Linked DNA regions of Homo sapiens: region 2 is linked to region 1. Evidence: fine-mapped expression QTL. A gene starts in region 1. The other region holds a variant in brackets. All regions are shown on one strand. Distances are from middle to middle.

What was found. PIP is the estimated chance that this variant, and not a neighbour inherited with it, causes the effect. A credible set is the group of variants that fine-mapping cannot tell apart.
Region 2: its variant is the best candidate, but not a certain one, in a credible set for the expression of BUD31 in lymphoblastoid cells (GTEx, PIP 0.60).

Annotation. Positions count from the first base shown.
Region 1 is chr7:99,405,974-99,411,342 of GRCh38, reverse strand. It overlaps BUD31 (BUD31 spliceosome associated protein), which reads right to left and starts at 2,374. Exons shown (of 6, transcript NM_003910.4): 1 at 2,098-2,374; 2 at 1,174-1,309; 3 at 157-279. The coding sequence starts at 250. PDAP1 (PDGFA associated protein 1) reads left to right here and starts at 2,746. Exons shown (of 6, transcript NM_014891.7): 1 at 2,746-2,807. The coding sequence starts at 2,795. It overlaps MIR12119 (microRNA 12119), which reads right to left and starts at 2,171; the gene lies at 2,079-2,171. RefSeq lists an enhancer at 2,318-2,707 and a silencer at 2,918-2,977.
Region 2 is chr7:99,539,351-99,544,719 of GRCh38, reverse strand. It overlaps the pseudogene LOC100419451. Among named protein-coding and RNA genes, the nearest start is that of FAM200A, 10 kb to the left of the region's middle. The variant G/A (reference allele first, on the strand shown) is at 2,982.

The sequences.
Region 1 (5,369 bases):
CACTTACAGTATTTCCCCAAGTTCATAAGCAAACACAACATGTCAGTGTTAGTAGACCACTCTCTTTTTATATTTGCATTTATGCCTGTCCCCTGGGGGCATCTAAGCCTGTGACCCTTGGACCCAGCCCACCCAGACAGGAACTCCCCTACTCACCTTCTCTCATCTTTTGATCTAATTCATCCAGTGTTGGCTCAATCAACTCCCAGCCATCTGGGGGTGCTTTCCGGCTTCTTTTGACTTTAGGCATTTTCCTTCCACAGGATAATCTGCAAAGATCTGGGGGAAAAAAATGAATTGGTTTCTGAGTCTCAAATCCCCAAAGGCCTTTGCCAGCCATTATTTCGGTACAGGCTGACTTCCTTGAGTCAGCATAGGGTCACAGCTATGGGACAGGGCTCAGCACCCAGACTGTGTTCAAATCCTGGCTCTGCTACTTACCCGCTGTGATCTTCAGAAAGGTACTTAACCTTCCTAAGCCTCTGTTTCCTCATCTGTAAAATGGGGATAATGGAAGCTACCTTATGTGGTCATTGCAAAGACTTCATTAGAATTGTATCTATCATGCCTGGTGTATAATGTGTGCCTAAGAGACATTTGCTGTTGTCATTAGCTAACTTCAACTAAAAGCTTAACCCTATACTGGATGTTGGGAACACAGAACAAAAGTTAAGCCTTTGCCCCTTAGAAGGTGACATTTTAGCAAAGAGACAGACAAGAGAAAAAGCAATTACAATAGAGTATAAGGAGGGCTGTGACTCGGGGAGCCATGGGGGTGAGTATTTAAAAAGGCAAAGATGGAAGGTCAGGCACGGTGGCTCATGCCTGTAATTCTGGTCTTGGCCAGCACCTTGGGAGGCTGAGATGGGAGGATCACTTGAGCCCAGGAATTTGAGACCAGTCTGAGCAATGAGGTGAAACCCTATCTCTACCAAAAAAAAAAAAAAATCAAAAAAATTAACTGAGCATGGTGGTGGGTGCCTGTGGTCTGAGCTACACGGAAGGCTGAGGCAAGAGGATCACTTGAGCCCAGGAGGTTGAAAGTCTTCAGTTAGCCATGTTCACACTACTGCACTCCAGCCTAAGTGACGGAGTGAGACCATGTCTCAATAACAAACAAAACAAAACAAAACATAAAATAAAAAGGGAAAGATGACTGTAAAATCAAAGTACCTTAGGATGTGCTTTCCAAGAGTATAGACAGCAGAAAGATCTCTCGTCTCTGCAGTTGCAGGCTTGGATTCTTGTTCAGCTCTAAAAAATTATTCTGTGACTTTCAGGTCACCTTCCCTCTCTGGTCCTGTTTCTTCTGTAAAATGAGGGCAGTGGATTGGCTGATTGCCAAGGTCTCTTTCACACCAAACAACATATTACATAAAGTCAGGTAGTTCCCATACAAGAGGCCGATCCCAATCTAAATAGCAAAGCGTTTTTCAAACCACACAGCATTTCCTTGCTGCCAGAGAGAACCCAGGTTAAGTATTTACCTTTCAGCATAACAGATTCATCTCTCTCAAATTCATTCAGTCACTCCCTTCTGTACTGACACTTTACAAAGACCCACCCCCCCCCCGCCCACAGAGCCTCCTCTCATGAACTCTCTAAAACAACCATATAGAGGAGGAATCAAACTCTATAAGGTAGAATCAGGGTCACACAGCTGAGAATTTGCAAAACCTGACTCTGGAGGGCTCCTGACTCCCAAATCAGTGGTCTTCGCACTAGTCTCCCCTACGCTGAAGCTAAAAATAGGTGAATTCTGGTCTCGGCCCCAAGGCGCATAGTCTGTGACAAGAGAATGATCGCTTTTCTACGACCCAGGGAAATTCGAGGGCCCTGATCCAGCCTGGAAGTCAGAAGAGGCCTCTCGGAGGTGAAAATGGTAGGCGGTAACCAGATCGAGGAGAAAGAGGACGTAGGAGGTAATCAGATCGAGAAGAAAGATGTGCCGGGAGGTGTAAGAGAGATTGGGGCGCTAGGGGAAGGAGGCGAGGAGGAGCGAAGGAAGATAGTGCAGGATTGTAGGGAAAACTCATAAAAAGGACAGCATCTGAACCCAGCTTAGAAAAACAATCAGAACACAGAAGACGTTCCTACCAGAGGAAACGGCGCGAGAATCCTAGAGGAAAACCCCCAAATCTACCGTCCCCTCAGAAGAACGAACGTGGCGCCGCCTCCTCTCGGGAGCTCTCTCCGGCCTCAAGGTCCAAAGCCCGAACACATCCCAGTGGCTGGCTGAGAGTCCAGCCACTCATATCTCCCTCCAGGACGGTGCAGACCACCGGTCTCCCGCCTCAGCCGTTGCCAAGGTAATCGAGAACAGAGGGAAAACACATACCGGAAGCTCCTGGAGCTTGGGTAGCTGCTTCTCGACAGAAGGCTTCCGCTCTTCAGGCGATCTCTAAGGCATGAGGTCCTTGCGGAGCCCCGCCCTACCCGCGCGGAGATTGCGTCATCTTAGGTGTCCTCAGCAATGCCTGTATAGAATTCCAGAGCCGCTGTTGCCATTTGCCCTCACTTCCGGTGGGTGGCAGGCAGGGCCACGCGTCTTCCCGAACGGAGAGACTAGGGGCGTTGTTGCCTGGCAGCAGACGGGCAAGCCTGGACTTAGGCGGCGCGCAGGACGGTCCGACTTCGTGCGGAGGCCTCCCTGAGGTCCGGGTCCTTGCGGCCACTGCGGCCACTGAAGCGGCGGCGGCGGCTGGCCCAGGAGGAAGAAGTCGAGCCCAAGCTATTTCCGGTTCCGGTGTCAGTTCGAGGCGCCGCCGCCGCCGCCGCAGCCGCCGGAGCCGCAATGCCTAAAGGAGGTGAGGGGCGGGCGCCGGTGGCCCGCAGGCCTGGAGGGGCGGCCCAGGTCCGGCTTCCGCTGTCCCCTCAGCCCGTGCGCGTCTCTGAGAGCAGCGCAGAGGGAGGCTGTCCGCACCGGCTGAGAGCCAGGCCTGGGCCTCGACGCCCAATTGTCCCGATGGGGAAACTGAGGACTGTGGTGTCCCAGAGTCACTCCGTCAGTGGTCTGAGGAGTTTCGGAAGCTCTGGGTCCTCGCCGGCCTAGAAAGCCGGATCTAGGATGCGCTTCTCCGGGTCTAGGGGTTCTGGAATTTATCCCACTCTTTGGCTGGCTAGGAACTGAGTCACCGCGTCCCGCGCTTGTGCCGGGCCCGCCTGCCTCTCGCGTAAAACGTGGGCTTTTTCTGGCTTCGGTTCAGCCAGGCCTGCCTAGGAGGACTTAAGGAGATGCCCATGAGCCTTCCAGACCTGGTTTCGACTCCCCCGTTCGGTAGCGGCTCGGTGTGTTCCTTTGAGCCAGTCGCTCCACCTCCTGTGTCTCCGTTTTCTCATTTGCCAATGGGAATAACGATTGTACCTACCTCTTAGTACTGTTGGGAGGCTTCAACTAGGTAATCCACGTGGAGTGCGCAGTACAGTGCCAGGCAGTCGTTAAAAGTGCCCAGTGAAGCAGTAACTATTCTTATTTTTAAGGCTTTGCCAGCTCTTGATCTTGTAAGTAGGTTCATGACTGCCCAGTCCATTGTAGCCCGTCCTCTATCTTCTAGCCCGTTCTCTATCCTGTTTCCCCCTTTAGAATCGATAGTCCCCAGTTTGAATCCCAGCTATGTCACGTCTAATTCTGTGGCCCTGAACAAGTTAACCTCTTCCTCATCTGAAACACTGGGCTAATCCTTAGCTTGTTGAATTGGGGCCGGGGTGGTAAAATTATAGCGCTCATAAAGTGCCTGGCCACCTCCTGGCACAGAACAAATATATTTGTGTTGGTAGCTCATGTGTTATATTGGTTAATGCACTCAACCCACAGAAACATCTGCCTGTAGCGTTTTCAAACCTAAATCGCTTCCTGACTCCAGAGATAATTGGGCATTACAGAGCTAAATGTGTTTAAACCTAGCTCTCTACTGATTTATTCTGTGGCTGGAAAAGTCTCTCTGCTATTGTTCCCCAGTCCCTTCATCTGTAAAAGGAGGTTGCTGAATGAGCCATCCTCCCTCCGAAGTTTTACTTAATGGATACTTTGGGTAAAGGTTGGAGGTTACAACGATAAAACCTTAAATATGAATTCATAGCTAAATGGTCTTTGGGCTTGTGAAAAGCTTTTTGGGGTAGACAAGGTTTACATTTTCTTGGGTTAATCTGAAAACCACAAAAAACCGTGAAGGTGTTAAAAGTATCAAACTCCCTAAGAGCAAAGGACCAACGCTTGTTTCCATTATGTTAAGTGCAAATCGTTTTTTAAAGTCTTGAAGAGTCTACTATAAAATTACTGTGGACCAAGCTAAGGTCAGGGTCCCATAGCCAAGTGCATGAGAGGAGAGCCTATAGTAATCAATTTTGAGTTGTTACTGTTGCCTGGTGTATTAAGAGAGCAAGAAAGGGTGTTGGTTTTTTTCTTGGCACACTTGCTCTCTCACAATAGGACTTTAATAAGCATAGACTTAGACACCCCTGGGAACCTAGGTAGTCATTAAAAATGGGTGGTGTGATCTTTAGCAGCCCAATTATGGCTTTGCAGCTGCTGTAAGGAATCAGAGGAGGCCAGTATCTCTGCTACCGCCTCTGGAGTGCAGAGCAACTCTGGCTGATTACAGAGTCTCTGCTCACAGAGACAGACTATGGAAATCAGGTGGGCCTCAGCTTCCTGTGTGGAAGTTGAGGCCACAGCCACCCTTGCATACTTGGGGACCAGCAGAGGGGGATGCCACCTTGCTTTAAAACTGGCTGATGGCTTAAGCAAGGGTCAGCCTGGTGTTCTGGCTGAAGAGGGTCAGACTATAAAACTGACACTTTAACTGCTAGTCACATTTTTAACTTTTAGACTGTGTAGTCAGGTTTGTTTTCATCTGTACTTTGCCAGTCATTTCTTAGTCTAAGCACAAAGTTTTTGCCTGTAGGTTTGGGTTTCTTTTTTTTCCCTTAAGTATTCTCTTTTTGCCATACTACTAAGGTGAACACAAGGTATTTTATTGTGTTTCCAACATCTGCAGTAAATTGCTTATGTGCTCAGTGGTGCTTTTGTTGTTGTTTTTCCACCAAATACTAGATTAGAGGGAAAAGTAACGAACAGCGATTTTTTTATTTTTTTGAGACGGAGTCTCGCTCTGTGGCCCAGGCTGGAGTGCAGTGGCTCAATCTCGGCTACTGCAACCTCTGCCTCCTGGGTTCAAGCGATTCTCCTTTCTCAGCCTCCCAAGTAGCTGGGATTACAAACATGTGACACCATGCCCAGCTAATTTTTGTATTTTTAGTAGTGAGGGGGTTTCACCATGTTGACCAGGCTGGTCTTGAACTGGCCTCAAGTGATCTGCCCGCCTTGGCCTCCCAAAGTGCTGGGATTACAGGCATCAGCCACTGTGCCT
Region 2 (5,369 bases), 130 kb before region 1:
GTGAGCAGAGATTGTGCCACTGCACTCCAGCCTGGGCAACAGAACGAGACTCTGTCTCAAAAAAAAAAAAAAAAAAAAAGGCCAGACACGGTGGCTCACACCCATAATCCCAGCACTTTGGGAGGCCAAGGCGGGCAGATCATGAGGTCAAGAGATAGAGACCATCCTGGCTAACATGGTGAAACCCTGTCTCTACTAAAAATACAAAAAAGTTAGCTGGGTGTGGTGGCGCATGCCTATAATCTCAGCTACTTGGGAGGCTGAGGCAGGAGAATTGCTTGAACCCGGGAGGCGGAGGTTGCAATGAGCGGAGATCACACCACTGCACTCCAGCCTGGCAACAGAGCGAGACTCCTCAAAAAAAAAAAAAAAAAAAAAAAAAAAATCAGGACACAAGAAAGAAGATAGTGATGATGGTGATTTGTTTGTTTGTTTGTTTGTTTCAGAGAGGGTCTAATTCCATCACTCAGCTGGAATGCACTTTGCAATCACGGCTCACTGCAGCCTCCTCCAGGCTCAAGTGATCTTCCTGCCTCATAGTTTTTATTTTTTTGTAGAGACGGGTCTCACTGTGTTGCCCAGGCTGTCCTTGAACTCCTGGCCTCAGGTGGTCCTCCTGCCTCAGCCTCCAGAAGTGCTGGAATTACAGACGTGAGCCACTGAGCCTGGCCTGAAATCCAATTTTTAATGTTGCCTCAAAGATACCGAAAACATAGTGAGGGACAAATGGCACGTCTGTTGGACACATCAGACAGTGGCCATCGATTTGCTAGTTTAGCCATTCACTGGGGTACAAGGTGAAGCCTGAAGTTTTCCAAACTTCAAACTTGAAGTTAAAGTGCTTCTATCCACTTCCAGGGGTTGGTGCCCCTGTGCCAGACAGAGCAAACGGGAGGTAGCTGCTCTTCAACCCCTTTCTCCTTTTCCTAGGCCCTCTGCAGCCCCACCACACTTGGTCCCCACGCTGACCGGCTAAGGGTGTGTTGAGCCCGCCTGAGGCCCAAGCCTTCCCTCTGCCCAGAGCTGGGGACTCCTGGCCAATGGGCACTCCAGCTCACAGACCCTCGGTATTAGGTGGCTCCTTCATAGACCACGGACAGAGCCTGGGCTGCAGAACAGAACCCACACCCGGGCGCAAACCACAACTCAGGGCTGCTTCCTGGGATAGCGAAGAAAGGCTTTGGGAGTGGGCGGACCGAGGGCGCAGGGCGCTTCTCCTCCAGGTCCTCGGCTCGGCCACCCCGGTCCGGCAAATGGCGGAACAGACCCAGCCTGCCCTTCACTGAGCGCCACTGGTTGCTGGTGCCCCTGCCTCGGCCACAGTCGCGATCTCGGAAAATCCAGAGCCAGAACTGTAGTTATACAGAAGACTCCAGTGCTCCATACCCACCCTGGGTGGCAAGGCCTGCAGGTGAGCATTGTGAGCATGCGGTTGGCGCCTGCAGTGAACACCTCCGTCCCCCATCCTGGGTGCCTCGTGCGCACGCCCTACCCAACAGCCTCGCCCAGGCGCGCGCGGAGTCTGGAGCGTGGGACACAAGCAAAAGGGACGGTGAGGCACCTGGACCCCGACCCGGAGATGCTGAAATTAGGGTTTTTGACTTGGGACAGGTGGAATTGGAGTTAGAAGGTGAGTGTTAGCAGAAAGTCCCATAGACAGGAGTCAGGAGACCCAAGTTAGTCGTGGGACTGTCACTCCCTAACCGAAGTGGCCTAAGATTTCTGTGAGGCTATACTTTTTTTTTCTTTCTTTTTTTTTTTTTTGGCGGGGCCTGGGGTGGGAGGATGGCAGACAGATCCTTTCTCTGGTGCCCAGGTTGGCATGATCACAACTCACTGCAGTCTCAACCTCCAAGGCTCAAGTGATCCTCCCACCACAGCCTCCTGGGACTATAGGCGTATGCCACCCCACTAATTTTGGTATGTTTTGTAGCAATGGGGTCTCACTGTGTTGCCCAGGCTGTTCTTGAACTCCTGGGCTCAAGCAGTCCTCCCACCTCGGCCTCCTAAAGTGCTAGGATTACAGGCCTGAGCCGCTGTGCCCAGCCCCCAGTCTTTTTCTAACACTCTTTTCTACATGGATGAAAAATACCTATTGATAAATAAACACATATATGATAGTACCTACCTAATGCAGTTACTGTGTGAAATAACTGAATTAATACATGTAATGCACTTAGGAGACTGCCTGATGTTTAGTAAGTGCTACACAAGTAATAAATAAATGTTAAAAGAGGCTTATAAATGAGTAATTTCAATTAAATGAGGGACTGTAGAGAAGACTGGCGAAGAATTAAGCACAAAGGTCTTTGTAGAGGAAGTAAATACATGGCAGGCTGTAAAATGATCATTCACAAGCAGTTCAGGCCAGGTGTGGTGGCTCACGCCTGTAATTCCAGCACTTGGGGAGGCCAAAGTGGGAGGATCAGTTGAGGTCAGGAGTTCAAGACCAGCCTGGCCAACATGGTGAAACCCCATCTCTACTGAAAATAAAAAATTAGCTGGTCATGGTGGCAGGCACCTGTAGTCCCAGCTATTTGGGAGGCTGAGGCAGGAGAATCACTTGAACCCAGGAGGCAGAGGTTTCAGTGAGCCAAAATCAAGCCCCTGCACTCTAGCCTGGGCGACAGAGCAAGACTCCATCTCAAAAAAAAAAAAGTTAGCCGAGGGCTGTGGCAGGCACCTGTAATCCCGGCTACTTGGGAGGCCGAAGTGGGAGAATCGCTTGAACCTGGGAGGCAGAGGTTGCAGTGAGCTGAGATCATGCCTCTACACTCCAGCCTGGGCAACAGAGACTCCATCTCAAAAAAAAAAAAAAAAAGAAGCAGTCCATATGAGCCTATGAAAAACACCTTGCTCGGGTTGTTTCGACAGAGTCACCCAAAGCTACCTTCCTTCTAGCTTTGCCTTTGAGCTCTGTAAATTACTTCAAAGAAACTTACACTTAATCTAATGCAATTGTTCCTGTTATTTTTTTTCCC[G/A]GTTCCACACCCTATTTTAAGTCTAACACCTTCACTTTGTACTTTTGCCTTTGGATTCTAATGTGAAGAAGGAAAAGGCCTTCAATGCAGAAAATGGTGAAAAAAAAAATACCTGCCAGGACATTATAAGGAGAAACCAAAAAATAAACTGGCCATGGTTTTGCAAGGTGGGCAAAGCCAGGAAGAGGAGATCGGGAGAGAGAGGTCCGATGTGAAGATGTGCACAGAGATGTCTGGAAAATAAGCCCAGAAAAAATAGTCTTCATAACCCATATAGGGGAAAGTGGAAAAAAACTTGGGCAGAGTTCTAACGTGGTGTGTCATCACAAGACACATGCCAGAGAGAAGCCCTACCAGTGTAAAGAATGTAGGCCAGGCGCAGTGGCATCCCAGCACTTTGGGAGGTCAAGGCAGGTGGATCACGAGGTCAGGAGATCGAAACCACCCTGGCTAACACGGTGAAACCCCCGTCTCTACTAAAAATACAAAAAAAATATCCGGGCATGGTGGCAGGTGCCTGTAGTCCTAGCTACTCGAGAGGCTGAGGCAGGAGAATGGCATGAACCTGGGAGGCGGAGCTTGCAGTGAGCCAAGATCGCACCACTGCACTCCAGCCTGGGTGACAGAGCGAGACTCCGTCTCAAAAAAAAAAAAAAAAAAGAATGTAGGAAAAGCTCCAGCCAGAGCAGAGCTGAAAGTGCATACCCAGGAGAGGCCCCAAACATGTGGCAAGTGCAAGAAGAGCTTTAGTTCTGGCTCGGACCTCACCATGAATTGCACCAGGGAGAGGTGATATCATTGCCTTGACTGTGAGAACACTTTACATGCACCACTGGGATGGTGCATGGAAGAATCCACACTGAAACAAAACTGTAACATGTAGTGAGAGTGGCAGAAGCTTCAGGCCAAGCTCAGCTCTCATCACCACCAGGTAGCTCCACTGAAGAGCAATTCCACCCTTACGGCGAGTGTGGGAAAAGCTTCACGTCAAGCTCATGCTTCACTGTGCACCAAGAATCCGCCTGGGGAGAGACCCTACAGTGTAATGGGTGTGAAAAGGCTTCCAGCCTCAGCATGACATTTGTGGTAGACAGAAGAGAAGCCCTGTAAATCCTGGAGGTGGGAAAGTTTGGGCCACAGCATTAGCTTAATTTTACATTATAGAATCTACCTGAGAGATAAACCTTACGAGTGTCATGCATGGGAGAAGAGATTTGGTGGAGACCTCATCTTTTAAGATGCCAGAAAACCCACATCTCAGGAGTGACGTGACAGAGAAAAGCTCTAAAAGACTAGGTTTCTGGCCGGGCACGGTGGCTCACGCCTGTAATCCCAGCACTTTGGGAGACCGAGGCGGGCGGATCATGAGGTCAAGAGATCGAGACCATCCTGGCTAACACAGTGAAACCCTGTCTCTACTAAAAGTACAAAAAATTAGCTGGGTGTGGTGGCGGGTGTCTGTAGTCCCAGCTACTCGGGAGGCTGAGGCAGGAGAATGGCATGAACCCAGGAGGTGGAGCTTGCAGTGAGCCAAGATCATGCCACTGCACTCCAGCCTGGGCGACAGTGCAAGACTCCGTCTCAAAAAAAAAAAAAAAAAAAAGGACTCGGTTTCTGCTGGGGTCAGTGGCTATCACATGTAATTCCAGCACTTTCAGAGGTCAAAATGGGAGGATCACTTGAGGCCAGGCGTTCAAGACTAGCCTGAGCAACATAGCAAGACCTCAACTCTACAAAAAATTTTAAAAATTAGGAAGGCTCAGTGGTGCACCCATAGTCCTTGCTATTCAGGAGGCTGAGGCAAGAGGATCACCTGAGCCCAGGAGTTCAAGGCTGCAGTGAGCTGTGATTGTGCCACTGTACTCCAGCCTGGGCAACAGGGAAAGACCCTGTCTCGGGAAAAAAAAAAAAAAAAAAAGACTAGATTTCCTTGGTCATAAGCAACAATACCCAGCAAAGGATAGAAACCACTATTCCAAAGCTGTGTGTCTTGTGAATAAAATACCACATGAGCGAAGACATGTGGTGTTTTCCTTCACCCCAGGGTTAATTACATGGTGTTGAATAGATAGCCCAGGCAGGGGAGAGAGTGTGTGTTTTCACTTCCCATGTCCTATCTTCACATGTCAGCCAGTGGAAAAAATACTGAGCAAGGGTCAGGGATGTCGAGACCAAGGGAAGATTCCCTGATAGGAAGGGACATAACCCTTGAAATATAACAGCGTTATCTAAGCCACAAATGCTGATTTTAGGGTGACCTCTGAGAGTTTTCTCTTGACCTCCACTCATCACTCTTTGGCTTTATTTGCTGGCCCTGGCTAAGCACGTGGGCTCCCTCAGGGAAATATCATCGAGGTTAACAATCATGCTTAGGTTTTTAAGAAATAC